Linked DNA regions of Homo sapiens: regions 2 and 3 are each linked to region 1. The links come from fine-mapping of genetic effects on gene expression. A gene starts in region 1. Each other region holds a variant in brackets. All regions are shown on one strand. Distances are from middle to middle.

Region 1 (8,172 bases):
CTGAGGCAGATCCCAAACATCATTTCATCTACCAACACTCAGTATCTATTGCTAAAGGGTGAAAGTTATTCTAACATAACCACGATGCTGTGATTAAGGAATTCCTTAAAATCATCATTCACTCCACAAATGTCCATGAGACACATCAATAGCCTAGTTTTCAAAGGAGTGATGCTTGGATCAAATGCTGATCCAAGTGACAGCCTGGATCAGGCTTTGATCGAAGCCAGAAATCTTGGGGTGCCACTTAGATGTGATCCAGGGCAGGGATGCAGTCATTGCTTTCATGGGCAGCATCTGAAACTTCTGGACCAAATAACAGGACCCTGCCTGCCCCCCACTGAGGTTTGCACAGGTGCTGTGGGAAGGCGGCTGCTGATGCCCCAGGGGAAGCAGCAAGGCAGTAGAAAGCTGGGGCCCCTGCTGTGACACCCCCAGCTAAAGGCAAATTCGCTCAGGGAGGGTCACAGAAGCTGAAAAGTGACCCACAAGCAGCAAAGCAATTTGCTTATCCCAAGGATCGCCTTAACTAGTGCACCTAAAACACCACCCAGCTTCCAGGGAAGGCCCTGGCACACCCTCTCCACCTGACTGAATCAGCAGCTATCTCCTCCAGCAGCCCTGGACCCTGGACGGCAATGGTGATGGGGATGGGGATGCAATGGGCAGGGCTGAGGAACTGCACCTGCCAAGCCCAGGGCGGACCCTGGCCCAGGGAAGAGAGGACCCACCCCAGCTGCCTCTGCCACCTCCCTTCTCACCTTCTAGTCTTCTTCCTGGAATTGTCCAAGTTCAAAGAAGAAATAACTGCCCTGGTTGGGAACAGCAGGCAGCAGCCTTTCTCTCAGCAACTAGGCTCGACAATCAGCCGACGGCACGTTTATTTCTATATTTTCACGTGGCAAGTTTCATCCCCATGGGTCCTAGCTCCAACCCTGGAGCTCTGGCTCCAGGGGTCAGGAGGAGAATCTGCAACCACCCTCCTGGACCCGCCCATCCCTCCCTCCCCAACAGAAATGGAACCAAGAGAGGCAGAAGCCTGAACAGCCTCAATGCAGAAGCACAGAAGATAGAGAAAACCATTGATCTTTGCAATGCATTATTGATTTTGCTGTTGTGCTGTCAGCAGCGGACGTTCCCTCCCTCCTCAGTCAAAGCTGGCCATTAGCGTGCACTCCCAAGCTTTGGCCTAGACACACCCGCTTGGTGTGGGGAAAGCGGCTCTAGGTAACATCTGCCTCCAGCGGTCCACATGGAGAGGACTGTCCACAAGTGGATGATGTCACCAAGGACATCTCCCTGGCCCCAGACCCACTGGATATCAAATGCAACATGGTCGCTGGTCTTGCACTCTAAACCTCAGCCCAGGACCCCAGGCACTCAGGGGGGTCTGTGCAAGGCTGCATTTTCAACAGACTCTGGGTGTGCTTCTCAGGAGGTGGGCCCCCTCCCATGGAGTCCCTCCCTTGTGCTGTGCTGCAAGACCTTGGGCTGGCATGGCAGCTGGGGCTCTGCATCCCCACGGTGGCCTTTTGCCTGTCTGCACTCTGAAATACAGCCACTGAGTTCCACCGTCTACCAACTCCTAAGCGGCCCACCCTCCTGGGACCCCAGGGCTGCTCCTGGCACCAGTGATGTGTTTCTATTTCTTTGTTTGACTCGCTGAGTGTACCACGTACACTCTTCTCAGTCTGAAGGTCTGGCCTTATGGGAGGGCAGTCTTTGCTCACAGAAACAGGCCAGTGCATCCCTCATCTTCCCACCCCAGCCTCCCTGGTGGGTATGCTGAGCCCGCCTGCTTTCTTCTTCTGGCTGACGACTACCAAGACATGATATACGCAGACACCAACTGTCAAAATGACAATCAGGGCATTATCATCTCTACCAGAATCCTGCCCCTGCACTGGCCAGAGCTGCCTGTTTCTGGGACACAGTAAACATTCCCAAATAACCTCGCCTGGGCAGCCAGCAGGCAGGCCCCAGGCCTAGGACACATATGAGGTGACAGGCCACTGGTGTCACGTCACCCCCAGGAAAGGAAACTTCCGTTCCGTGGCGCCTGGTGGATTTGAAAAGACTCAGAACAGCAGGGTGAGATGCTTGGCCCCAGGCCCCACGTCCAGCTTGGCCTTCGGGGGCCTGGCCACCCACGAGCCTGGGATGTGCTCAACACAGAGTGAGGTTTTCAAAACAAAAGCAAAGCAACTTCATGTGGAAAACCTTCCGGAAAGCAGGACCCAGCCCTCGACACCAGGCCTCATTTGACGCAAACTGCCCACTTACAGACTCCCATTCACCCACTCTCCCACCTACCCCCCAAAATACTAAGCCAGAAAATAGAGGACAACCACGAGTTCAACTCTCCTTTACACGTTTTTACTGGCATAACCCCAGTAGAGCCAGCCCCTTGCAGCTCACTAGGCGGCTGCAACAGGTGCAGCCCAAGCTAAGGCTTGTGGTTCTCCTGGGCTGTTCTAGAATAATGCAACCAAAACCCGAAAGGAAACCGAGGCCTGCAGCACTCACTGCCAAGGCGGCGACCTGACCACTGCGGCCCAACCTGCCCCACCTGTCTGAGTGCGCGGCGCCGGGTCCAGTGCACAGGGTCCGCGGCCTCCGCGACCAAAATAGAAGCCCGCGGGGGCCCGGCCAGAGCCCGGCTGGCCGGAGTGGGGCCTGACCTGGCGGGGCCGGACTGGGCGGGCCGGGGCGCGACGGGGCCTGGCCGAGCGCACCGCCCCCTCCCTGGCCCGGGTATGCAGCGCGCCCCCGCTCCCCCGCGCCCAGAGGAGCCACCTGCGCGCAGGGACTGGGGAGGCAACCGGGAAGGGGAGAAGGCCGGGGAGGGATAGCAGAGAGGTCCAGGGGGTCGGAGGGGTCCGGGTAGGTGTCTCTGGGAGGCGTCCCAGGAGGGGCCCCGGGGGGATCCAGGAAGGAGTCCAGGGGTCCGGGGATCCCAGAAGGAGGCTCCTGCAGGGGTTCGGGGAGGGCCCCGAGGGTCCGGTGAGGAGCCTAGGGGTGTGGAGTGGGGGCTCCGCGGAGGGTCCAGGCCGCCCCCAGCGCACCTGCCCGGCCCCGCGCGCCCTCCCTCCCGCGCCAGCCCGGCCGCTTACCTGCAGCGCGCGTCCTGCCCGCGGCGGCTCCCGGCCGGGCGAGTTCGGGCGCCAGGAATGGCGGCGGCGGCGGCGGCGGCAGCGGCGGGAGGCGGCCGGGCCGGGGAGGGGGTGGCGGGGAGGCCCGGCGGCGGCAGCGGCGGCTGGGATGCTGCGGCGCGCGAGAGCGCTGAGGCCGGCGCGGGGACGGAGTGCGCGGGGCGGGCGCGCAGGCCCCTCCTCCGCTCCCCCTCCCTTCCCGCCTCCTCCCCTTTCCCTTCCCCTTCCTCTCCCCCTTCTTCTCTTCCCTCCTATGGCCCCGCCCCTTTCTTCCTCCTTCCTCCTCCCTCCTCCTCGCCCCTGCTCACCTCCCTCCTTTCCCTCCCCCAACCTTTCTTTTCCTCCCTTCTCTTTTTCCTCCTCTTTCTTCACCTTCGCAACACTCTTCCACCTCTCTCCCCTTCTCCCCACTTTTGCTCCCCACTCCTTCCTCCTCACCTCCCATCTCTCTTGCCTCCCCGCCAGGCCCAGAGGGTTGTCCCTCAGCCCTGGGTTGGTCTCTGCTGAGTCAAGCACCCGTTCCCAGGACCAAGAGGTGCCCTGTCACCCTCTTCCTCACCAGCTCTCAATAGACAAGCTTGCCCCTTCTGGGGTCCTGGATGAACCCCACCCTTTCCAGGCCTCCCCCAAATCCCCCAGTTTTTTTTCACCCCCAGACCCTGGGCCAGCTCTTCTGAGAACCTGACCTGCAGTGTGCGTGAGGCACGTGGCACCCAGAACACTTGGCTGCTGACTTTGGGCAAGAATATTTCACACCAGGCTGCTCCCATTCCCCAGGGGAGGGGCTGGCACCACCTGGAGTCTTGGTTTCCCTGAACCCCCGTGCTAGCCTTTTGCCAAACGTTCATCATTTTCCACTCTGTATGGCAAATGGTCCTCCTGTGAGGCTGCTGGTGAGACTTGTTTGTGACTAGCCCATGGGTTTGGGGATCTGGGGGCCCTCAGAGATGGTGCTGCTCCATCCAGACCTCTTCCCTCTGCCCCCAGGAGAGGTGACAGGGCTCGCACAGTGACTGGCCAGGCTGGGAGGCCTATTGAGGAACACAGTCCTGAGAAGGGGACACAGTTTCTTACGGAACCAGCTAAGATTTCCCCTAAATGTGAGGAGTTGGGGAGCCCCTCTCCAGGCCAGGTGATACCTCCCTGGACTACAGACTGCTGTTGAGGGGCAGGGGCCCTGAGGCTGTTTTCCTGCTGAGCACTGGCTCTGAGAGCCAGAGTTTACAAATGAAGCCAGTCCCAGGCCCAACAGTCACAGAGTTAAAGGCCCAACAGTCTCAGAGTTCCGTTCTAGGGCCTCCTGTGGTTTCTGTGGTTCAGTGCCGGAGCTCTGAGAATAGGGCTTCGGCCCAGCAAAGGCTAAGATGGCAAAGCTGGTGTCAAGCAGGGTGGGGTGGAGCACGCACCCCCTCCTCCCTCTACGGCATGGCAGCCACCACCCTCTTGCTGAAGAATCCAGACCTGGAATCTGATAGACTCCCTTGACTCACAGCTCTGCAGTTTCCAAATAACCTCAGGCCTCAGCAAACCTCTGTACCCTGCAACATGAGGACAGTGTGGTCGTCCTGGAGGGTTTGGGGAGCACGGAGAGAGAATGGCAGGTAAAGCCCACTGCACCGTGTGCTCGGGTTCAGTGCTGGTGACTATTACAGGAAAAACTAGAGAAGTCTTTTCCAAGCTCTTTTCCAATTGTAGGGGTCCATGAATCCATGTTCCACATCCCATTTGGATTGAAACATAATGGGAACGGATTAGGACAGAACTGGTTTAACAGCATTCTATACCCAAGGAGGGATGCACGCTTAGGATCTACACATGCAAGCATTGCACTGATTGGGGTGGGGTGGGGGGACTCTCTTTTATTCCTCACTAGTCAGACACATCTAGAATACCATGCCCTTGCTTGGTGTCTAAGGCAGCCAGCAGTATCCCGTGGGAGGGGAGTTGACCCACCGGGAGTCTTCAGCCTAGAAAATCAATGTGTGGAGCACAAGACAGAAGAACCCCAATATGTGCAAAACTGTCCCGGGAAGAAGGATTACTCTGTGGTGTTATGAAGGGCAGAATGAGGACAGATGGGTGGAAATTAGATGAGAAAGTGGATTCCTGCCTATCGTGGGCGCTTTCTGACAGACCTCACTGTGGAAGAGCCGGCTGCCCCTACAGGAGCGTGCCCTTCACAGCCAGCGTCTAGACAGGCCTGGGGCCACCTTGGGAACACACTGCAGGGAGGGGACCAGCAGCAGAGGGGTATGCTTCTCAACAACTGCTGAATTCTCTCCTGGCTTTTAGACCCACATGCTCAGAATCTAATAGAGGGCAGCCCAGGGCAAAGAAGAGACTTTGCATGGCTGTCCTGGGGCCCACACTTCTGGCATCATGACCTTCCAGAATACTGTCCTCTCTAGCCTGTTTCCTAATGCATACAGAAGAACATGAGAGAATTCAGTAAAAACTCCAAAAAGCTTTCCGCAATGCCCAGGCTGCGAACACAAGGGCTTCTTTGCACCGTGCTTATATAAAATTGCCCCCAAACATGTTTATTGCATTCATGAAGGAGACAGGACTCTTAGTTGTAAGTGATAGAACTTCAGCCCATACTATTGGCTCACTTGCATCCAAAGATGCCCCAAGTACCATTAGAACCGGGACTTGGATGCCATTATTAGGTCTTCCTCTTCCCTCCTCTCTGACCTTCTTCCCTGTTCCCTTCTCTCAGCATGATTGCCTATGTCTCCCAAAGTGACCAAGCTTGCCTTTTTATTCTTGTTTCACACTCTGTCGTGGGACATTTCAAACATAGATATAAAAGTAGCAGGCTGGGTGCAGTGGCTCACGCCTGTAATCCCAACACTTTGGGAGGCTGAGGCAGGCGGATCACCTGAGGTCAGGAGTTCGAGACCAGCCTTGCCAACATGGTGAAACCCCGTCTCTACTAAAAATACAAAAATTAGGTGGGCATGGTGGCACAAACCTGTAATCCCAGCTACTCAGGAGGCTGAGGCAGGAGAATCACTTGAACCCGGGAGGCGGAGGTTGCAGTGAGCCAAGATCATATACCACTGCACTCCAGCTTGGGCGACAGAGCAAAACTCAGTCTCAAAAAATAAAAATAAAAGTAGCTAAATGAACTCCAATCTTGCCTTACCTCTCACCCCCTTACTTTCCCCTCCAATATTAAGTTCAAGCATATCAAAGATCATATTAACCAATCTATTTCCTAGTTTCCCCAGAAATGCCAAGTGTTTGGATACTGAGACCATGCTTTGCAAAGTTTCTCTGCATTTCCCAGCCAGAATGTTGACACCATCTATATGCATATGAGCATAGTAACTGGATTGATAATAGTTAAGTCCCATATGAGAAAAAAACTCAAGTATGGCAGCACAAATAATACTCAGCTTCCAACACGGCCCAGGTGGATATGAGGAGAGAGGATCCTCTGCTTCCACTTTGCAGTGCAGGAGGGAACAGGCACGTAGTGGGCTGGGAGCCGTTTCCAGATCGCCCAGTGTGGAGCCTTACGCAGTGGAGGAGGTGTCTTCAGAAAGAGTCGGCCTGCCGCCTCTCACCTGTAGTGGCATGCAGAGTGTCCAGGCTAAGCTTAGAGAGAGAGTCAGCACAGCAAGTGGAGAAACGGGGTCCTCTGAGGGACTGTGGGAAGGTTGGCTCTGGGACCTGCCAGCAGCTTCTAGAAAAGTCCGGGGAGATGTCCTTTGAATGTGACCACACTCTGCAGAGACGTGGGTGAGCCACACCTCCACTGTTACCATGCAGTGGCTGCCAAGACCATGCTGTGACTCCTACTCCTAGCTCTGTTCCTCCCCGCACCCCAGAAAAGGCTGGTAAGAGTGTGGCCTTCCTGGCCAGCCTCTCCAAAATAGAGAGTCCACACCGGTCTCTGTCAGGCACCCTGATTGTTAGAACATGTCAATGAAGGAAGCCGAAAGGGATTTTGAAGGCTCTGAGATCCCCAGGCACCTCTAGCACCCTCATATGTCCTTACTGCCACTGAGACCCCCACAGGACCCACAGAGCTCTTTTTGTTAAAGCCACACTTGGAAACGTGGGGTCACACCAGCAGAAGCATAGAAATGAAGGCCGTGCTGAGATGTTATCATTGCTCTGTGCTCCTGCACAGCGTTCAACTGTCAAACCACTAAGTGCTAGATAAATCTGGTGAAGGGGTGTAATCCATTTTTGGTGCACACACTCATGGCAGCACTTCCCACATCACTGAACATGCAGAATGGTTTACCAAGCCATCCTTCGTCATACTGGGGAGTGTACAGGATGCTGATGTGGCCCCATCTGACCATTGATCTAATCAGTGCTGGTGTCTGCTGGATTAGACTTGCCCCAGCAAGTGAACTTGCCCCAGCAATGCCTTTCTGACCTTTAAGGTGACTGCTGTCACCAACTGCCAGACCATGGACCTCTTCGCATCCCTGGCTGGCTGGCAGACACCCACTTATGTGTCAAGGCTCTGCCCTGGCATCATTTCCTCCAACACAAACCCATGCACCCTGGGCAGAGCTAATATCCCCCACCCTGCTCCTCAGCTCGAATGTCACCTTACACGTCACTTCCTTGGTGCCTGCACCAGCTTCCATTATAATTGTTTGTTGATAGTTTTCTTTCTTCTCTGGTCTACATTTTGAACTTCACAGAGTGGTGAGGTCTACAGAACTCTTTTCAGAGTAATGTGTTTAAATGCATAAAGTCAAATACAGGATTCAAAAGGAAATGAATTATACTGAAATCCAGCTACCAAAATACTTTAAAATGTGATCTACTTGCTTCTTTTTTAATAATATGCTCTGGCGGCAGATCTGATAGCTGTAGTTTCCAAGTCATGATAAGTCAGCCGATATTTTAAAGTCTGTAACGAGCATGATGTGATGTGAGAATCGCTGTGATTTCTGCTGAGAAGTCCTTACATACTGCTGATGTGGCTGTGTTTGTTGCCTGCATGTACACCCGAAGGAAATGCTTCCTTTCAGTTAGAGGTTAGTGGGGA
Region 2 (8,179 bases), 35 kb after region 1:
AGCATCCCATTGTGGATATGCACCATGTTTTCTCTATCCTATGTGTCCTTGATGGACACAGGTTGATTTCATCTCTTGGCTATTGTAAATAGTTAAGCTAGCATTTTTAGCAGAACATTTGGAAATAGTCTTTCAGGTTTATCTTATCTTTTAAAAGTTTTGGTGTATGTTTTGTAATGTGTATAATACATACAGTAGTTATGTGTATATAATAAATTTGCATAGATATATGTATATTGACTTTTTACAATTAACAGTGATGTAGTTCAGAAAATGAGATGCCCTGTTTGGGTGACTATTCTGTCTCAGGTGTTAGGTTGAATGACCAGGTGGATAACTGTCTAATTTCTTGCTGGTCCACAGAGACAACTGCCCTTTATCACCTCCTCCAGAGCACAGGTTGAGGGCAGCTACAGTCACATAGTGCTTGAGAAGCAGCCGGTGAGGCCATTCCTGTATCACTGGCCCTGAAAGCCAGCTCTATGCACTTTTCTGTGCCGAACAGATTGTCCTGGAGAGTTAGCTTTTTGTCTACTAATCTCTATGCTTGGAGGTCTTTGTGGAATGGAAGTTTTCTCATTAGCAGGCAACACAATGAAAAACTTCCAATAACTGCTCTTAAAGACTTTATCTGGGCCGGGCACAGTGGCTCATGCCTGTAATCCCAGCACTTTGGGAGGCTGAGGCAGGCAGATCACCTGAGGTCAGGAGTTCAAGACCAGCATAGCCAATATGCTTGCCGGGTCTGTCCCACAGACCCTGGCCAATCGACGGATGAACGGGGTACTCAGACACAGGTATGCAGTGGAAGAGCAGCTAGGGGACTTCCAGGCTCTAGTGGCCAAAGTACAGCATCCTCGAGAAGCTGGAGCTGCTTGCTTTTATTGAGTGCAGGCACAATGCTAAAAGCCTGAAGCAATACACAATCTGTGGGTAATTAACATTTATTGTTCCCCTTTCAGGGAACTTATGGAACTTATGGCGGATGATCACAGGTCAGCTCCTGGCCAACATAAGTAAACAAGCCTGTTTAAGATAAATTTCCCTACAATCCCTTGTACCTACTCCTTGCCCTCTGCCTCAGGGTTAGAGAACAGCTGTCTTCAGCTATTCTCCCCCGAAACTATGCAGAGCCTTCTGACCTTTCAGAAGGCCTGCTCCTTTCCCTATAGTTTCTCCCACCACTCTGACCAACCTCCTAAACATGATGAAACCCCGTCTCTAAAAAAATACAAAAAATTAGCTGGGCTTGATGGCAGGTGCCTGTAATCCCAGCTACTCAGGAGGCTAAGACAGGAGAATGGCTTGAACCCAGGAGCAGAGGTTGCAGTGAGCTGAGATCGCACCATTGCACTCCAGCCTGGGTGACTGAGCAAGACTCCATCTCAAAAAAAAAAAAAAAAAAACACCAAAGGAAAAAACACTTTATCCTGCCAGGAATAGAACTGAACCAGGAATCCATGAAACAAGAAAAGCAACTCTGGGGGCCCCTGGGTGAATCTCTGCTCCTAGCTGGGTGCCATCCTTCCCTCATGGGTCCAGGAAGCTTCTACTGTCAGGGCCTGAAAGACAAAAAGGGGTGCACACAGAGCCAGGGGTTCAATCCCATTTATCTCTGGGGTCATGCTTTCTGCTGGACATGGTGGGCTTAGGTGTGTGAACATGCTTGGACCAGACTTGAGTCAGAAGAAGAATCATCCTCCAATTTAGCTATGAGAACAGCACTGTTCCTGAGTGGTGAGAGTCAGCCTGCATCCCTCTGGGGCCTGGAGTCCTTGCAGGGATCGTGAACTGCTTCCATGGTCCCCACTTGGAGTACAGCAGGACCTGGTGCCCAGAAGGGGTGGCCATTCATGTGGCAGGCTCACAGCCTCTCTGCTAAGCACCATCTCTCCCAGAGCCGGCAGATTTTCCACGGTGGTGCAGATGGCCTGAAAATGGCCAGGATTTGGGGCCTCCACATCTCCATGGCTCAGCCCCAGCCAGCAACCAGCATGGGCATCCTAGCCTATGAGTGGCCACCTGCTTTCCGTGTGATGAGAGCACACATCAGTTGCAACAGGGTTGCCAGGCTTAGCCAACAAAAATATTCTCCTATGCAATATTGGGGATATAGTTATACTAAAGTTTATTTGCTGTTTATCTGAAATGCAAATTTAACTAGGCTGTCCGTATTTTATTCAACAACACTAATGACAAGGGCTTTGAATCTGAGTTCTGCTATCTAGTGACCTGAGAGCTGCCTGAGCTCTCTGAGACTTAGTTTTGTAGTCTGCAGAATGGGAAGGACAATGCCACCTCTCTGAGCTATCCATGTGGCAATATGCAAGATGGGAGAGAATCTTCCAGCTGAGTGGCTGGGGTCTTGGCCCACCTGCCTCTTGTGTTGTGCAGGGGAATGCAGCTGCCCAGCTCCATGTGCAACGAGAACTCCAGTGGAACAAGGATGGCTTGTAATGATGCTAGTGACAAAGGTTGCCATTTATAATTGGAATTCCTGACCAAGGTTTCTGTTCAGCACACAACAGCCCCTTCATAAGTGCTGGGTGCAGTCCACACTCTGTCATTGCCACCGTCGGCTCTCTGGCTTGAAAGGCTCTGGGAGTGCCAGTGAGTCAATAGTTCCTGTTTGATGAGAGCTGCTTTATCACTTCCAGGTAGCCCTGTCCCTCACCATACTGCATAGGGATGGAGTCACCCTGGTGTTGGGCGGACTATGGCTCCAGGCCCAGCAGTTCACAATGATGGCATGAAGGCTGTGATGGTTAAAAGGGGTCAATTTGACTGGATTGAGGGATGCCTGGATGGCTGGTGAAGCAGTTTCTGGGTGTGTCTGTGAGTCAGAGGACTGAGAGGAAGACCCCCTCTCAATGTGGACGGGCGCCCTTCTGTCAGCTGGGGGTGAACAGGTGGACAAGGCAGGTGGAAGGAGGATGGATATCCAGCACTCTCCCTCTCTCTCTCTCTCTCTCTCCCTCTTCTTGAGCAGGAGGCTTTTTCTCTTCCTGTCCTTGGACATCAGACTCCAGGTTCTTTGGCCTTTGGACTCTGGGATTTGCATCAGCAGCCTCCTGGTTGCTCTCAGACCTTTGACCTAGGACTGGGGGCTGCACTGTTGGCTTCCCTGGTTTTGAGCCCTTCAGACTTGGACTGACTTTTTTCATAACCCAGCCTGCAGATGGCCCAGCGTGGGACTTGGCCTTTGTAACTGTGTGAGCCAATTCTCCCTAATAAACTCCCATATATATATATACATATATCCTATTGATTCTGTCCCTCCAGAACCCCAACTAATACAAAGCCTTTCTTGTAGTCTCTCAGGCATGCTCCTCACTCCTGACATAGGGACATTATCTAGTCTTCACCCCTAGGGAAACTCACCCACAGCTTCACAGCAGGAGGGCACGCTGCTTCCCACGAGGCTGGTGGACTCCAGCATAGGCATCCTCAGCCCTGCACCAAGTCCTCAGCCTGAACAGACATAGGAGACAGCGCTGCACATCAGGAGGCTGGGGGTGCATCCTGGGAGATGCCTTCGGGCCAACTTCCCTGGAACTTTCCAGTTGCCATGGTGACAGTCAAAATCGTGGTGATATTTCAGGTGGTTGGCAAGACACGGAGTCTGGGACAGCATGCTGCAGGCTGATGTCCCTCTGATTCAGTGTCTGTGGCTCTGTGCTGGGAAGGATGGGCTTGAGGAGAGGGTCAAGCAGGGCTGGAGAGGATTCTCCTGGGCCAAGCAGATAGCTTTGCCCGGAGCTGTGCCAGTCAAACCTGGCATCTCTCCTGGAGTGTGTAATGCGGTGGCAGTTTGTGACATTAGGGAGGAGGTTGATTGATTATGGTTTGTAACAGGTCATCCAGGAACAGCAGCCATTGTTTTAATGAAAAATCCACATGGCTGATGATGGAGAGGAATGTAAATTGCCTTGGAGGACAGCGTGGGCCTTGGGAGTGACCCAGTCCAGTGAGATTCTTACCAGCTGCCATGTGACCCCCTGTGCACTGTGCGTTCATTGCTGCTTGTCAGAAATGCCTTCTACCAGTTAACTGGGTCCTATTTTTGATGTGATAGCTAGATTGGTCTCTGTTTTTTAGCTCTCTTCTCGAATGGTTTTCAGAACTCAATTTCCTTTTCTTGCCTAATTTTCATCAGGTGATGGTCTTATGATTAATAAAGTAATGTTTATCCATTGTAGTTTAATAATTTTAAAAATAATATTTGTCAGTTAGAAAATAAGAAACTCATAGAGGAATAATCAGAATCACTCATGATTTCCATCCAGGGGTCGAATGCCAGACCCCAGATCTTGCCCCCACTCCACCCTCCACTGCCAGGATACTAAAAGCTGCGTTTCCTGCTCATGTGGGAAGGGGGGCCCAGAGTATGTGGGGTGGGGGCAGCAAGGGC[A/G]GAGTCCATGAGGGCCTTATGTCTGATTTGAGGTGGGGCTTAGCGAGGACGGGGTCACTGTCTGGGCTGATGGGGCAGCCAGGTGAAGAGTTGAGGTGAGGGATGCGCAGCCTCCCAGGGGCCAGCCGTCTGTGGAGGTTTTCCATGGAAGGATTGATGGCTCTTTCGGGAATCTCCTGTTGTAAATAATTAAGCTGCTTGCTTGCACCAGAGTCTGCGGAAGGAGCTGAGATGCTGACAGCAGGGGGCGGAGAGCCAGTCCTGCCTGCAGATGAGGGTGTGGGGGTGTCTGTGTTGTGGGGGCTGGATGGCTCCGGCTCACACAGGACATATATGAACACATGGTAACCTAATAACTTTGCATGCGTTAGCTCAGGTCATAATTTATGACAGCTGAAATGGACAGCACTAAAAAGGACATGGGAGATGGAAAAACCATTGCCTTTTGCGCACCACACTCCTGCTCACACAGTTCTAGGGTGTACACACATACCTGCGCATGGAAAGCTGTGTGTGAGACTGTGAGTACATGTATGTAGGGCTGTGTGTATGTGTGTAGGGCTGTGTGTGTATGTGTAGGGCTGTGTGTGTGCGTGTGTAGGGCTGTGTGTGTGTGTGTAGGGCTGTGTGTGTAGGGCTGTGTGTGTGTATGTGTGTAGGGCTGTGTGTGTGTATGTGTGTAGGGCTCTGTGTGTGTGTGTAGGCGTGTGTGTGTAGGGCTGCGTGTGTGTGTAGGACTGTGTGTGTATGTGTGTAGGGTGGTGTGTGTGTGTATAGAACTCTGTGTGTGTGTATGTGTATAGGCCTGTGTGTGTGTAGGGCTGTGTGTGTGTGCATGTGTGTAGAGCTGTAGGTTTGGTGTGTGTTTAGGGCTGTGTGTGTACAAGTGTATAAGGCTGTGTGTGTGTGTGTGTAGGACCCTGTGTGTGTCTGAGTTTTATTGGGGTTGTGGGTGTAAATAAGTGCAGAATATTTAATCAAGGCAATGAGTTCTAATTTCCTTTTTAGATGAAAAATTGCAGTCTTTACCTTGTCAGGCAAGTGGAAATGTGATAAATGTCCCAGTTTCCGCACAACTGTTGTTCTGTTGACAGCTGTCAAGTTCCACCTGGCACACTTGGGGCTGCGCTGGCATTCTGGCCTTGCCTCACCTTGCCCTCAGGTATAGGATGTGCTCATGGTGCCCCATGGCAGCGAGACCTTGCCCTGCTTCACACCCTCTGAGCCCCCAGGGACCCCTGGTTGTCTCAGCTCTATGGACACCCACACCTGCCAGGGGGGTCACAAATGGCCAGCAGGTGAGGAGAGGCACCAATTGTCCTTCAGCCACCAGGAAGGAAAGTCCTTGAAGGAGGGCACCACCTCCAGGGGCTGAGGATGTCATAAAGTGATTGACTTTAAAGAACCCAAAGACAAGTGCAGGGTCCTGAGGAGGTCTGAGGTCCCAAGTGGGGCCAAGAGGAAGGGGGAGAGGGTGGGAGATAGCAGGTCTGGGAGATATCCTTGGGACCCCATGAAGCAGGCCTGACGAGCGTGCAGGAAGGAGAGTGCTCTCAGTTGTGGAGGAATCCATATACAATTTCCAGGACATTATTATTTATCCCATTTGGTGTTACAATTTCAGAAGAAGGAATTAAAAAATCACAAGCAAAATAAAACAAACTACTCAATCATCTGAGTAAAGTTCTGAGTGCACAGTGTGATTTCATCAGATAGAAGGTGATTTTGAAAGATGGGTCTCAGAGTGAACAAACAGGAAAAGAAAAGGGGATCCCGGCACTGGTGTGAGCTAAGTTGCTTGGGTGCATCCGTAGCAAATGGATTTAAAATACAGGCATTTAACGTAACACTGGAGAGTAAGACGTAATGGCATCCAAAGCTATCCATGGCATAATATTACATGAAAATATGGAAGTTGGAGCACACATCACCCCTCACATATGTAGGTGTGTCTATGTGCAGAGAAAAGGCAGGAAGGAAGTGGACAAACTTGCTAGAAACGGTTAGATGTGGGAGGTGAGAACACAAAGTGGTCTCCTTTTTTTCCTCTCTCTTCTTTCTCTTTTGTTTTTGCTTCTCTGTGTTTGCCTTTTACTTTTTTTTTCTTACAATGAATATATATATATGTAAAACCACACATATATACATATGTGTATATGCATGTTTTAAATAAGGAAAGCAATATAAGAAAAGACGTTTGGGAAATGTCTACTGTATATTGACTTATGCATGGTCCAGGACCTTATTAGTTACCTTATCTGATGTGTTCAACAGTTCTCTGAAAACTGGTAACTGTTCTTATCAGTGTGTAGGCTGAGGCTCACTGGCTTGAGCTGTCTGTCCCCAGGCAGCCAGCGTGTAGGTGGCGGGCCTCCTCTTCTGGTTGGGTTGTGTTGATTTCACTGCCCCTCCACCATGAAGGCAGGGTACAGCCTGGCAGCCTTTCCACCCTGACCCAGGACAGTGGGGAGAGCTCATCTCAGTTCTGTGATCATTTCTGCGCCTGATTTCCAATTAATCTGGAAGCCGAGTGCCCTGCAGGCTGTGCCTCCCCATATGGGCTTCAGAAGGCTCATGGAGTCTCCGTAGAGAACATCAGCAAGTGACCAGCGAGACCTTTGATGCAGGAAGGTGATGCTGATGGCCGCTGGGCCTTTGCTTTGGCTCAGTGTGCCTGCTGGAAGGGCGTCTGGGGACTGTTCCCAGTGAGGTGCCCAACCAGGAGAAAGCTCTTTAGAGTTGCTGCTATGTCAAGGGCAGGACAGGCCTTTGCAGAGTGCTGAGCCATAATCCAGGCGCTCCCTTGGCTTCCTGTCTTCAGAGCCCAGGAGAAGCCCGGGTAGTTTTGTTGTAAATAAGTGACATTTGATCAAGACCAGAAAGACACATGTCGTTGGGTTATGCCTGGCAACCAGATTCCTCCAGGCTGTTACTCAGGGCCGGCTGTTCTTTATTATGGGATTTATCATGTTGAGGGGGAAGAAAATGCAATTCCTGCTCTTCTGAAAGCACACAATGTGTTTCCATGCCCTGATGTCATTTATAATCTATGGCAGGAAAAATAACTTGGGCATACCTTTTTACTTGGTTCCTAACATTGCAGTGGCTCATGACCAAGATGGAAACTGGCTCTCAACCCTCGTGCTCAGAGCGTTCCACATGGACACCTGTTTTTGTCCTTGAACTATGAATTTCATAGTTAGTAGTGGCGTCTCAGAGCCCTCTGGGAGTGGTCATTAACAGGGATGGGCCATTTGGAACCAAATGAGACTATCTTGCTAAATTCAGCCAACATCAAGCACCAAGATGCACAGGACCTTGTGCAGGTAGCTGCAGGGACCTGACAGGAGCAGCCCCTCGCCTACAGCCATTGCGAGCCCAAGGGAGCTGGGACTCCTCAAGTAACCAGGAGCTGCCAGTTTGGGCCCAGGTTGGTTGCTGCTGTTATCTTGTGCCTGAGGGCCTTGCCTTCTCCTAGACGTGAAGCTCTTCGGAGGCAGAGGTCTTAGATTTTCCTGTCTCATCCCACAAGACACTTTCCTGAGTGTAGTAGGTGTGCAAAAACACCCTCAGCATCCCCACTCCCTGTACACACTGCTCCTTTTAAAGCAATCCCTGCTCCACGGCCCTGTGAGCCTGTTTGTTGGGCCCAGCCTGCAGGCACAGTGAGTCTGGTCTCTCCTGGCTAGTATTATTACACAGCATTGATGTAACACTGAGTGTCTGGCAGTAGCCTCCTGAGGAGTAGATTGACCTATAAAATAAGGG
Region 3 (8,179 bases), 130 kb before region 1:
AGGGCTTAGCTCAGGAAGCCACTCCCCCTGACCCCTCCAACAGGTGCCTCAGGTGAGGCATCCAGCCAGGAGCTACCTGGAGGGTTCCCCATCTGTCCAGGTTTCCTGCCCTCCTCAAAGGAGTGGCTGGCTGAGTGCTCTGTACAGAGAATGGGGTGGTCGTGGGGGCCCATCTAACTAGACAGCCCCACCTGTGAGTCCCTCCCAGTCTCGCCTCCCTTCAGTCTCTTTTAAGGGCTGGGGCCAGATGCCCCTTGATCTCCTGCAGTCTCAGCAACAAGACGTGGGATTTCCCCCCCCAGTGTTGCAGATTTCATAAAGGAAACTGCTCCGGGGCTAAGAGGGAACAAGTGGGGTCCATGCTGAATGGGGCCCTTGAAAGATCCACTGGATGTGGCAGGTGCCCTGCCCCTGGCTCCAGCCCTCCTTTCTTTGCCCGGCTGCGGCCACTTACCCACGCCTTCCTCCAGCTCTGCATCATCCGGTCGTGCTCCCCAGCCACAGCCCTCCAGGCAGAGAGCTCTCTGGTCCACCTCTCCTGGTGGGTCACTTCTGGAAAACAAGCAGGGTCCCCAGGTCAAAGCTCTGTGGGCCTTTATGGCACCCTTGATGCCCACTGGCCACCTTTCTCAATGGAAAGCCAATAAAACCCAAACCCAGAATGCCACCGTGCAAGCATGCTTTCCAGCTGTTTTTTTCACTGCCATTGTAAATAGTGAAAAATTACCTCATAAAAGGGTAACAGTGGGCATGGGAATCACTTACCAGGTCTCATCACAGCAACCTGCACCTTCGAAGTCTTGTTCCCTGCTGAGGAGAGGACAGAGCAGCGATACTCAGCGCTTTCCCTGATGGCGTCCTGCAGCCAGCTGAGTGCATGGGCCCTGCCATCGGGCAGTGCATGGGTCTGCACAGGGACACAGGTCTCCAGAGCTCGCCCATTCTTCTCCCAGACAAAGCGAATGTCTGCAGGACCTGGGGACACAGACCGTTTCCACCTCTGAGTCCACATTTAGGACCCAAAGAAGCTGCCCCATGAGGGTGCAGGGGGGTTACCTCTGCTGTCCCAGTTGGACCTGAAGTGACTTGGGACAACTTCCAATTCAGTCCCTGGGACTGCCCTGGAGGTGGCTTCCCCATGGCCAGCGGGAGCCTTGGCCTTGGCCCGTCCTGTGGACTTCCTGCTCTTTGACCTTAATTGCCATTTTTCAAAGCACACCTGTGTGGCCTGTGTCCCCTAGGACCCCCTTTCTTGCAGCGCTGTGCTGGTTTCTTACAGAATGGTTCTGGGCCTTGGAACAGCATCCCACCCCACCATGGCCCTGCTGCCACACACATGTCCTGTGACCACATGGACAGAGACATCCCAAGGCTCTGCCATCACCAGGGCCACAGCATGGAGAGGCCCAGAGCTCGGCCAGCTGTGTGCAGAGGGGGCTGGGCCAGAGTGGGGACCATGAGGGCCTGTCTCTCCAATTGAGACACTGGGGTGGGCTTGGAGGGGAGTAGATGCCACAGGCTGGAGAGCTCAGACCCTGGCAGGGGCCAGGCCCTGCAGAATTACACTAGGACTGCCGAGTGCAGCACATCCAGGATGGGCTTCCAGCCTTGAGCATGGACTCTGGGCCCGACATTGGCCACTTCTGCCGCAAACCTCTGTTGTTTTTCTCTGGGCTTTTGATCTTAATTACTTATTGAAGAAAGTAGAGAGGCCAGTTACTTCACACACACTCAGACCATCTGTTGCAACCTGCCAGGGTGGAGCCTGGCTGGCCTCAGCTTGTCTGATGGAGAGATCAGGAGGGTGGGCGAGGCAGAGACGTTCCCCTGTGGCCCAGGCTGCCTCGCCTGGGGAGGCCAGCCTCATCCCAGGGCAAGAAGTCTGCGCGGCCAACCCTGAGGGCTACTCCTAGACACTATTTGTTCCAGGTGGCTGGGGTGGGGCTGTGAAAACCAGAATGTTGGGGGTTTTGGGCGGGGGGGAGGGGCACAAGTAAGTTCTGGTCAGCAGGTCACCTCCCGGCCTTCCTTGCTCGTGAAGTCTGTTGGCCCTCCAGGGGCTGCTGGCCATGTTGGGACAGGCTCAACTCCCTGTTCTTACTGAAGGAAAAACAAGCACATCCATTTTGATCTGCTTCGCACACTGGCTTCCACTCAAATGCAGAAAGGGCTGAGGGGGGCCACAGTCCCACTAAGCTCCAGCCCCAGAGCGTACAGACCCTGGAGTTGAGCTGGGAGGGCCAGGCCAGGCCCTGGAGGGCAGGTGAGGGGGTGCAGGTGCTCCTTCTGTCTCTGAAGCTCCTGCTTGTGGTGGGGCTGGGGAGGCCGGCCAGCCTACTCTGCTGCTTCTGTCTCCCTCAGGCACAGCCTGCATCAGGCCAGGCACCCCAGCAGCGTGGACTGGGGTGACACCCACCTGCTGCCTAGCGACCCGGCTCCCTGACCAGCACCTGCCCTTCCTCGAGGCCCACCAAGGCCCCCAAATGGGCCATGGGCCACCTAGACCAGTGCCGGCCATGGCCTCTGCTTGACCATGACACCTCGTAAGAATTGGTCTTTAGAAGTTAGATTTGCCCTAGATGTCCATCAACCTCACAATGACAAAATGAAGTGTGGCTTCATGGAGAATGCTTAGTAGTGAAAAGGAAGGAGTTCAGAACACTGAGCAGGTAAAACAAATTCCAGAGCCAAAAGAGTCCAAAGTACCTGCACACACAAAAACTGGCCTTGTTCTCAGGTGTAGGGGCAGAGGTGCATCCAGTTACAGGTATTAAATGGTGTGGGTGGACCCACGCTCCCCTCCCTGGGCAGGACAGTAGTGGCCAGAGAGCTTTCCATTTCTGTGGCACATGCTGGACTTTTGAAAAGAAGAGATCGCCAGTTTAATGAAGCTGACTTTAGTAATGCATTTTCCCTGCTTTACTGACTGTGGCATCTGCTCATCTTTGTCCGGTCTCTTGGTCAACAATTCCCCACTGTCCAGGATCACCAGAGAATGCTCCTCCCAAGGACTTGACCAAGCTCAGACCCTTTAGCTGGGCAGTCCTAGGAATGAGTCCCGAGGCAAGGATGGGCCCAGTGAAGCCCTGTTTCTATCAGTGAGGAGTTGGGAAATGTCCAAGAAGGGGGCCACAAGTCACTCATTCGAAGTGCCATCGAAGAATATTCAGCAACACAGAAAAATAAGTGAAACAATATCTAGGAATGTGTGCATATATGTACACACCCATGTATACATGTGTGAACGTAGATAGTCATGGCCCAAAAATGGCTGGGATGCTGGTGGTAACTACCTCTGGATGGTTAAATTTGGGATTGTTTAAATTTTTTCTTTATACTTCCCTGGAGTTTCCAAACTTATAACAAACAAGCATTGCTTTTATAATAATAATTTTTTATAAAAGTGTTACTTTGAAGGAAACATTCTGTAAACTCAAGGAAATTCAGAAGGTGCTCCAAAACTGTTTTGCCTGGCGGCCCATCTGGCCCTGGCCTGGTGGACAAGCCCTTGTGAACAGGTTTGGTTTTTGTGCAGAATTTAAAAAAAAACAAAACTTAACACTCTATAATTTGTTTTTTCCCACTCAAAATGTTTTGGACTCTGGCCACAGATAATTCCATGTATCTATCTACAAATATAAGTACATATTACATAGATGTACAAACATATGTCTCTATGTACATCTAGGTGCCCATCAACTGGGGAATAGATATTCCCTTTCCCAGCTGATGGGCATCCAGGTAAAATCTCATTTTAAGAAACAGATTTTTTTGAGCTGTTATGATCAAGTAACACTTTTCTTTGAACAGACAGTGAAGTGAGTTCTATAAAAGCCCGGTCTCCTCCCTCATGTGACCTGCACCAAGAACCACCCAGGGGACTGGAGTCACTGAGTCACAGGAGCCTCTGGAAGGTTCTCATGACCAAGCCCTTGAGACTAAGAATCTGGGTGGCCTAAGCTGGATTGGATTAATCACCCAACGCC[C/T]CATCATGGGACCACTGACTGCAAAACCCTCAAAGCTCTACACTCTTGGGGTGTGAGCAGAAACAGACACGTGCTTACCACTGCTAACAGGCATCAGTAAATACTATTTAAATACATGCTTGATCATCATAAGACATTAAAGATGTTAAAGAAGTACTTACGTTCCATGTATTCGTTTTTAAACTATCCATCTCTTTCTGAATGCATGAGAGAGAGGGAAAGTGAGAGTTACCATCAGTGTGCAGGGCCACCCCATCAGCACCGCACCCTCAGCGGGACAGGGCAGCAGGTGCAAACCCACGTATGTCCCACGGAGGACTGCTGGGGAGCTCCTGGAATCCTAGGCCCCCAGTGGGGAGCTGTCTTCCATCTCCCAGCAGGGCCTCCTGAAAACACCACTGTTTTCTTGCTTGGGCCAGTGCTCCAAGCTCCCTAACCATCCAACCCTGTTACCTCAAGAGAGCGGCCAGGCTGGGGTGCTACTCCCAGATCACCCCCTTGGCCTCTGTGGGGTGGGGACAAGAGGCTGGTCTGATGCTGTGGGGCTCAGCAGCCACCAACCTGGATGTGCCTTGGCTCTTCCCAGTGGCGAGCCAGGTGACACTGGTCGCGCCCTCAAAGAAGGGAAGTTGTTGTGGCTTACAAGGATCTAGGGTAGAGGTCCTGAGGACAGATATTTCCCCCTGGCCCTTCCTGTCACTGCAACTAGCTTAAGTTGAAGGCAAATTAACTGCTGTGGCAGATGCCGTAGGTAATGATCTTTCTCCTACAGCTAGGACTGTCGTGAGAAGACTGATCACCTTGGTATAAGCAAGGGCCAGGTTTATTCACCAGGGCTGGGTTTATTACATCAACTCAGGAGTCTGGGGAGGCTGTTGGCAGCCTGGGCTCCAGCACTCAGCCTGTCACTGGGGCACCTCCCACCTGCTCACTCCCACCCCAAGCCTCTAACGGAGCCAGCTGGTGCCAGGACCACCATGGCTTCAGAGCTTCGTGGATGTGATTACAAAATATGGAGCTGATTCTACTCTGCGACAAACCAGGTGCCCTCTGGGCAGTGGCCTCGCCCTGAGGAAGGCCTGGAGGGGTGGTGAGACATCCACCCAGTGACTGAGTTGCTCGGGCCCATCCTGGAAAGTGCCCCCACTGCCATCTCCTGCAGCACTCCTCTGTGTCCTCCCGGCATCCCCATGCATGTGGCCCACTCTGACCTCAGGGCTGGCTGCCTCGGGGCCAGCCCATCTCCCAAACTCACATCCAGGTGGCCTTCCTGCAACTAATGGGGCAGCGGGCACATCCCCAGAGGGGCCATTCTCTGCACACAGTGCTGGCCGCTGGCCATCATGTCTTCCATGATGGGACTCCTGGCTTGTCCCTGCCTGTACCCGCTGCCCGGGCCTCACCCGGACACCTGCTCCCAGCCTCTTTTCCCGAGGATCCCACTGCTTCCCTGGCCCATCTCTGTGCTCTCTCCTTGGGGCACGGTCTTTTCTAATCCTGGCCATGGCCCCTCCTCCCTCCCAGACTCTGGGGACCCTTCTGGGGACAAGGACAGTGCAGCTGGGGGTATGCCCTGAGGCCTTGTTGGTCATCCTTTCTGTCCTCTGTTGAAGTCACAGAGTAGCCAGGGGCCCCAAGAGGAGGGAGGAGAGAGTGAGACCCCTGCCACATAGGTAGCAATTCTGACAGCTCCCTTCTCTGAGTCCTCATCTCCCTGACAGTCACCAGGCCGACGCAGCCTAACGTTTCACTCTGGTATGCTCTAGACCACTCAGGGCACTGGACCAGCCCCAGCGCTTCTGGAATGCACCTGTTCATGCCTGCCACTTACTGGCCAAGCCGCCTTATCAATGTGGGCAGGAATCCTGAACCTCTTCTCTGCAAAGGGACCTGAGAAAGTACCACTGAGGCATCTGTAGGCATCGCCTGGCTCCATGGGGGGCCTGTGGGAAGGCACCACTGAGGCACCGAGGGCATTTCCAGACCCCAGGTAACCAGACAGCTGTGTTGTAAAGGCACGTGGAATTATCCCAGATAACAGAAGAGACATGGATAGTTTCTGGTGAAGCTGCCTCATCTAACATGCGAAGGACCTCAGAGCACAGGGAGTTGATAGCACCACCTTGTCCTGTCCAGCAAGGGTGGCCCAACACACAAGGTCAACTAATTCCCACGACGGCCGTGGCCTTTCAAGAGTCTGAAACAAAGGGAAATGTCACAGAGCAGCTGGAACACACACATGCGTGCCAACAGGCCACTGTGGCTGCTAGGAACGGGGGCCCTCTCCAGAGCCCTGGGCCCCTCAAAGAGGACCAAGGGCGCCTTCTGCTGCTGCCCTCTGATCCCAGTGGTTCCAAGGGCTCTGATTTCTAACACTGTAGTTAAAACATAAAAGGCCATCCCAAATCCAAATATCTAAATGCTGCCTAAAGTATGGGGGAACCATTATTAGCTTTGAAAATGACACGGGTCTAAACTTGACATGGAAGATAGTCCTGGCAGAGGTGAAGGCAGGGCCCTGACAGGGTAAAGACTGCACTTTGGTTAAAAAATTATATCGATCTGTTTCTGTGTGTGCACACTAATGTACAAGTGCATGATTTGTATCTGCATGTAGACACAACCCATCGCCATTCATCGCTATTGATCCTTACGTTTGTATGCCAGATGCGCTATGTGCTGGCACACGGGTGGTGGGGTTATTTTTTCACCCATCTGTATTCTGAGTGATCCATGAGGAACTTGGGTTCATCAGTTCAGACGAGCAGAGCTCGGCTGCATGCTAACTTTACTTCACCAGCTCCAGACGGCTTTCCTCCCCTTGTCAATACACATGCTGCTCCACTTGCCACGGGGCTGCATCCCAATAAACCCACTGTGAGTTGAAACGATCCTAAGTCAACAATGTGTGTGTGTGTGTGTATGGTTGTGTATGTGTGGATGTGATTGGTGTGGTGTGGGTAGCGTGCATGTGTCTATGTGGTGTGTATGTGCTTTGGTGTGTGCAGTATGTGTGGTGGTGTGTGTGTAACAGTGGTATGATTGGTGTGTGTGTGATGTGTGTTGTATGCTGTGCTGTGTGTGGTGCATGTGTGAGTGGTTGTGTTTGGTATGGTGTGTATGGGGGTGGTTTTAGGTGTGTGTACAGTGTGTGTGTGTGGTGTGTGTTGGTATGTGTGCACATGTGCAGTGAGTATGCATGGTCTGTGTGTATGGTGTTTGATGTGTGTGTGGTGTGTGTGATTTGGTGTATGTGATGTTTTGTGCTGTGCATTTATTGTGTGCATGCACATGGTGTGTGTGTTGTGTGGTGGACATGATTGTGTTTGTGATGTGTGTGCGTGTTATGTCGTGTGTGTGTGTTGTGGTACATGTGTCGTGTGGTGTATATTGTGGTGTATCTGTACGTATGTGGTGTATCTGATATATGCGTGGCGTGTGGTGTGTGTGGTGTGTTTGTGGTGTGTGGCTGGTGTGTGGTGTGTGGTATGTAGGTGTGTGTCTGGTTTGTGTGTGTGGTGTGTATGAAGGAGGTATGGTGTGTGTGTGATGCTGGCATGTGGTGTGTGTGGCATGTGGTGTGAGGGGGTGTGGTGCTGGTGTGTGGTATGTCTGCTGTGTGGTCTGTGTAGTGTGTGTGGTATGTGTGTCTGGGATGTGTGTGGGGGGGTACAGTGCATGGCATGTGTGCGGTATACGTCATGCTCATGTGTGGTGTGTGTGTCTGGTGTGTGGTATGTGGCTAGCATAGTCTATGTAGTTTGTGGGGTGTGGTGTGTGTGTGGGGTGTGGTTGTGAGGGGTGTGATGTGTGTGTGGGGTGGGGTGTATGTGTGGGGTGTGGCATGTGTGTGGGTGTGGTGTGTGTCTGGGGTGCGGTGTGTCGGGCGTGTGTGTGTGGGATGTGGCGTGTGGGGTGTGTGTCTGGGATGTGTGGCATGTGACTGGGATGGTGTGTGTTGGGGGGGTGTTGTGTGTCTGGGGTATGGTGTGTATCTGGGGTAGGGTGTGTATCTGGGGTGAGCTGTGTCAGGGGTATGTCGGGGTGTGGGGTGTGTGGTATCTGGGGTGGGGTGTGGTGTGTGTCAGGGGTATGTGTATGTCTGGGGTGTGGGGTGTGTGTTATGTCTGGGGTGTATAAGGTGTGTGTGGGGGGGTGTGGTGTGTATGTCTGGGGTGTGGGGTGTGTGTTAT

Evidence for each region. PIP is the estimated chance that this variant, and not a neighbour inherited with it, causes the effect. A credible set is the group of variants that fine-mapping cannot tell apart.
Region 2: its variant is the best candidate, but not a certain one, in a credible set for the expression of SEMA4D in whole blood (TOPMed, PIP 0.58).
Region 3: its variant is the best candidate, but not a certain one, in a credible set for the expression of SEMA4D in tibial artery (GTEx, PIP 0.62).

What each region holds. Positions count from the first base shown.
Region 1 is chr9:89,494,806-89,502,977 of GRCh38, forward strand. SEMA4D (semaphorin 4D) reads right to left here and starts at 3,308. Exons shown (of 16, transcript NM_001371194.2): 1 at 3,114-3,308. RefSeq lists silencers at 2,628-2,777, 3,208-3,397.
Region 2 is chr9:89,530,057-89,538,235 of GRCh38, forward strand. It overlaps LOC105376137 (a long non-coding RNA gene), which reads left to right. Exons shown (of 3, transcript XR_930102.3): 3 at 1-1,406. Among named protein-coding and RNA genes, the nearest start is that of SEMA4D, 36 kb to the left of the region's middle. RefSeq lists enhancers at 2,196-2,365, 2,198-2,367, 5,698-5,867, 6,137-6,306. The variant A/G (reference allele first, on the strand shown) is at 4,412.
Region 3 is chr9:89,362,976-89,371,154 of GRCh38, forward strand. It overlaps a transcript of SECISBP2 not described here and a transcript of SEMA4D not described here. Among named protein-coding and RNA genes, the nearest start is that of SECISBP2, 49 kb to the left of the region's middle. RefSeq lists enhancers at 922-1,422, 1,423-1,923. The variant C/T (reference allele first, on the strand shown) is at 3,987.